Linked DNA regions of Homo sapiens: region 2 is linked to region 1. Evidence: fine-mapped expression QTL. Tissue or cell type: whole blood. Region 1 holds a variant in brackets; the other region holds the start of a gene. All regions are shown on one strand. Distances are from middle to middle.

What was found. PIP is the estimated chance that this variant, and not a neighbour inherited with it, causes the effect.
Region 2: SUMF1 starts here. The variant in region 1 is fine-mapped to the expression of SUMF1 in whole blood (TOPMed, PIP above 0.99).

What each region holds. Positions count from the first base shown.
Region 1 is chr3:4,329,096-4,331,945 of GRCh38, forward strand. It overlaps a transcript of SUMF1 not described here. Among named protein-coding and RNA genes, the nearest start is that of SETMAR, 27 kb to the left of the region's middle. The variant C/T (reference allele first, on the strand shown) is at 1,734.
Region 2 is chr3:4,466,284-4,468,926 of GRCh38, forward strand. It overlaps SUMF1 (sulfatase modifying factor 1), which reads right to left and starts at 986. Exons shown (of 9, transcript NM_182760.4): 1 at 693-986. The coding sequence starts at 962. It overlaps LOC124909340 (a long non-coding RNA gene), which reads left to right and starts at 541. Exons shown (of 2, transcript XR_007095789.1): 1 at 541-1,225; 2 at 2,381-2,643. RefSeq lists a silencer at 683-862 and an enhancer at 1,033-1,212.

The DNA.
Region 1 (2,850 bases):
GGCTTTGCAGGGTACAGCCCTTCTCCTGGCTGCTTTAACAGGCTGGTATTGTCTGTGGCTTTTCCAGGTGCATGGTGCAAGCTGTTGGTGGATCTACCATTCTGGGGTCTGGAGGACGGTGGCCCTCTTCTCACAGCTCCACTAGGCAGTGCCCCAGTGGGGACTCTGTGTGGTGGCTCCAACCCCACATTTCCTTTCCACACTGCCTTATCAGAGGTTCTCCATGAGGGCTCTGCCCCTGCAGCATACTTCTGCCTGGACATCCAGGCATTTCCGTACATCCTCTGAAATATAGGTGGAGGTTCCCAAACCTCAATTCTTGACTTCTGTGTACCCACAGGCTCAAAACCACGTGAAAGCTGCCAATGCTTACGGTTTGCACCCTCTGAAACAATGGCCTGAGCTCTATGTTGGCCCCTTTTAGCCATGGCTGGAGTGGTTGGGACACAGGGCACCAAGTCTCTAGGCTGCACACAGCAGCAAGGCCCTGGGCCCAGCCCACAAAACCATTTTTCCCTCCTATGCCTCCAGGTTTCTGATGGGAGGGGCTGCCCTGAGGACTTCTGATATGCCCTGGAGACATTTTCCCCATTGTCTTGGCAATTAACACTTGGCTCCTCATTACTTATGCAAATTTTTGCAACCAGCTTGAATTTCTCCTTAGAAAATGTTTTTTTTTTTTCCTATCACATCATCAGGCTGCTAATTTTCCAAACTTTTATACTCTGCTTTCCTTCTAAACATAGTTGCAATTCCAAACCATAATTTTGTGAATATATAAAACTGAATGCTTTTAACAATACCCAAGTCACCTCTTGAACACTTTGTATTTCTTAGAAATTACTTCTACTAGATGCCCTAAATTATCTCTCTCAAGTTCAAAGTTCTGCAAATCTAATGCAGGGTCAAAATGCCACTAGTCTCTTTGCTAATGTGTAACAAGAGTTACCTTTGCTCCAGTTCCCAACAAGTTCCTCATCTCCATCTGAGACCACCTCAGCCTGGACTTTATTGTTCATATCACTATCAGCATTTTGGTCAAAGCCATTCAACAAGTCTCTAGGAAGTTCCAAACTTTCCCACAACTTCCTTTCTTCTGACCTCTCCAAACTGTTCCAACCTCTGCCTGTTACCCAGTTCCAAAGTCTCTTCCACATTTTTTGGGTATCTTTACAGCAGCACCCCACTCTACCAGTACCAATTTACTGTATTAGTCAGTTCTCATGCTGCTAATAAAGACATGCCTGAGACTGCATAATTTATACAGAAAAAAGAGGTTTAATGGATTCACAGTTCCACATGGCTGGGGAAGCCTCACAATCATGGCTGAAGGCAAAGGAGGACCATGCACGTCTTACATGGTGGCAGGCAAGAGAGCTTGTGCAGGGGAACTCCCATTTATAAAACCATCAGATCTCACGAGACTTATTCATTGCCACAAGAACAGTATGGGGGAAACTGCCACCATGAATCAGTTTTCTCCACTTGGCCCCGCCCTTGACACATGGGATTATTACAATTCAAGGTGAGATTTGGGTGGGGACACAGCCAAACCAAATCAGACAGCATGAGGCCAGATGAATTTGTCACTCAACTGTCTTTTTTTCCAGCTCATTCAAAAGATAAATGTTTTCTTATCTCTTAGTATTTCACAAAAATCTTTTTAAAAGAGAAAAGCAAATTTTACCATTACATTAGTGTATTACTAATGCTGAAGCCAATTTTTAGTAAAA[C/T]ATTGTCAACAAATCCATCTCAATCTCAATCAGTTTGATCACAAAGTAAGATTTCCATAAGTCTTTTTATAACCTTTTTACAGTTTTCTATTAAAGAACAAATCAATGCTCCTGTAAAACTCTGTTATTCCAATTCAAGGGCCCAGACTCTAATATCAATGTGCTTTTGATATTAATATTTACTGTATAGAAAAAGTAAATAATCATTTTAAATTTTAGACAACTTAACTGCACATACAATTCCTTTCACAAGGTCAGTCTTCTACAAACCTTCTACAATTTGCTTAAACCTTCAGTTTTGTCCTGTCATCTTACTTTAGGACAAAAATTTACCTTCTTTTCCAACTTTTTATATTTGTGTAGTTTTATCTGTCCTTTTTTTATTCCTTTAATTTAAAAAAAAAAAACCTTTAAACTAGGCAAAATTACTTTCCTTTTAACAAAAACCACATTTTCATGCCTTCTGATAACTTTTCTTAAACCAAAAACATGTCCTACTTCCCTTATACACTTTCGATGGAGAATTTTTTCTCTTGTATTTAGTAATTTCAATTATATACATTTATTACAATGTTAACTTTTAGTAACTCTTATTTTTAGTGAAAAACCTTGGAGGTAAGCCGTTTTAATTATGTACCAGATGCAAAGTCCAGAACAAAGGACAATGCCTGGAGCTAGGCCTAGTCATAGCCTAAAAACTTAAATCTAAAGATAAAAGGCTGGGCACAGTGGCTCACGCCTGTAATCCCAGTAGTTTGGGAGGCTGAAGTGGGTGGATCACCTGAGGTCAGGAGTTCAAGTCCAGACTATGCCAACATGGTGAAACCCTGTCTCTACTAAAAATACAAAATATTAGCTTGGCGTGGTGGCACACACCTGTAATCCCAGCCACTCAGGAGTCTGAGGCAGGAGAATTGCGTGAACTCAAGAGGCGGAGGTTGCAGTGAGCCAAGATCGCGCCACTGCACTCTAGCCTAGGTAACAGAGCAAGACTCCATCTCCAAAAAATTAAATAAATAAATAAATCTAAAGACATAAGTTTATAGACAAGTTAGGTATCAAAACAAATCATAGAAGCAAGTTTTATGCCTTAAAACATCTGGTAGAGATAGTATCT
Region 2 (2,643 bases), 140 kb after region 1:
GTATTTTTAGTAGAGACGGGGTTTCGCCATGTTGGCCAGGCTGGTCTCGAACTCCTGACCTCGTGATCCGCGCGCTTCGGCCTCCCAAAGTGCTGGGATTACAGGCATGTGAGCCACCGCGCCCGGCCAGTAAGTTATTTATATATCCCGGCACCTAACACATACAGGCGCTAAGCAAGACAGATAAATAATAGCAATAAAACAACTACAGTTTGCTTAGCCCTTCCTAAGTGCTAAAGTGCTAAGAATAGCAGGATAAACAATTCAAGCCCTTGTCCTCAAGCAGAGTGTACTCGAGGAGACTACAGATAAGTATACAACAACCCTGGTGAAGATACTGAGACCCAGGATCCTAATTTATTCCGTTAATAAGAGAGGAAATGGTGATTTAAACCATAATTTGATTGCCTTAAAATTATGAGATCCTCATTAAGAGAACAGGTTGGAGGGAGAAAGAAATAGGGGGTAAAGAAGTAACAATAACCCTCAAACCAAACTCCCTAATGGTCAATTAAATGGAGTCTTCCGGTGAGGCACGGAGAAGGAACTCCTCATACGGGAACAGCAGGTGCTCGATTTGGGGTGTGGTTATAACCTTTACTTCCCTTCCTACTAGTGCCTTGCTTTGCCTACTCCAACCCCGTCCAGGAACCGAGCAGCCCCCACCCGCCTCGGAGGAATCGATGGAGCACCTTTGAGTGCGCGAGTTGCCGCTCTCCGGGTACGGGGCCCGGAGCGTTAGCCTCCCGCGAGTATCGGTGAGCGGCTGCCGAACTGCCATGGGCGCCAGGCCGCTGGGGCGTGCCGCAGCCGCAAGAACCCGCAAGGGACCCCGCGCCCGCACCGGTCCCGGCCTCCTGGCTCCCTGCCGCTCCACACAGCAGCGAGAGCAGCAGCAGCAAGAGGACGAGACCCAGCTCAGGGCAACGTCCACACACCAGCCCTAGTGCGGGCGCAGCCATGTTGTCCCGCGGGCCATGTGACCCGGTTGGTCACGTGGCTGAGCCCTCCTTAAAGGGGCAGAATTTTGAGCTGACTTACGAAGTGACCAGGAGAGTTGCTCTTCACCTTTCTTCAGGTACTTCTTTGGCGCTGCTGCTTGCCTGTGCTAACGTCAAAACGCAGCAAAACACAAAACTCCACAAAACTCAAGGCCTTCCACAGACCGTGCACCCCTTTATGATTTCTTGGTTGAAAAATAACAGTCAAATTTGCTGGGCATTTGGTAAGTGCCAGAGTACTATGCTAAGCACTTCACTTTTTAAAATCTCATTTAATCCTCACAAAGACCCAGTAATGGCGCGCTTGTAGTCCCAGCTAGTCGGGAGGCCAAGGCAGGAGAATCGTTTGAACCTGGGAGGCGGAGGTTTCAGTGAGCCCAGATCCCGCCACTGCACTCCAGCCTCGGCGACAGAGCAAGACTCCGTCTCAAAAAAAAAAGAGAAATACAATACGGAATCAGAATCCGTGGGGACTGGACACAGCAATCCAGGGTTTCACAAGCTCTCCAGATGATTCTAATCCACACTTAAGTTTAAGAACCACTGTTCTACAGTTCCGTAATCGAACAAAATGCAAAACCAAAACAAAAAGAAGATGAAGGAGAAACTTACAGATTAAAAAACAACATAGCAGGCCGGGCGCGGTGGCTCAAGCCTGTAATCCCAGCACTTTGGGAGGCCGAGGCGGGTGGATCACGAGGTCAGGAGATCGAGACCATCCTGGCTAACACGGTGAAACCCCATCTCTACTAAAAAATACAAAAAATTAGCCCGGCGTGGTGGCACGCGCCTGTAGTCCCAGCTACTCGGGAGGCTGAGGCAGGAGAATGGCATGAATCCGGGAGGTGGAGCTTGCAGTGAGCCGAGATGGCGCCACCGCACTCCAGCCTGGGGACAGAGCAAGACTCCATCTGAAAAAAAAAAAAAAAAAAAAAACATAGCAGCCAGCTGCAATATGTGAACCTTATCTAAATACTAATTCAAACCTACTGAGTTCAAAATTTTTGAGATAATCAGGGAAATTTAACCACTAAGTCAAATTATAATATTTGATAAAATTAAGGAATTGCTGTAAATTTTGTTTTTAGGCTTTTAGGAGTAATAATGGTATTTGTGGCTATATTTTTTAAAAGAATCCCCTCACTGAGGTACACACACACTCACTGAGGTATACACACACACACACACACACACACACATATATATATATGGATAAAAATATAGGCAGTCAAAGATTTGCTTCCCAAAAAATGGGTAATCAGGGTCTGGCTAAAGATGAAGCATGATTGGCCATGAGTTGATAACTGTCATAGCTGGTTGATGGGCATCTGGGTGTTTATTGCACTATTCTAATGTAGCATCTGTTTGAATTTTTTTAGCATAAAGAAAAGACCAGCCAGGCACCGTGTCTCAAGCCTGTAATCCCAGCACTTTAGGAGGCCGAGGCAGGAGAATCGCTAGAGGCCAGGAGCTTGAGACCAGCCTGGGCAACACAGCAAGACCTTGTCTCTACAAAAAATTAAGAAAATTAACTGGCCATGGTGACGCACACCGGTGGTCCTGGCTACTTCGGAGGCTGAGGCAGGAGGATCACTTGAGCCTGGTAGGCAGAGGCTGCAGTGAGCCATGATTGTGCCACTGC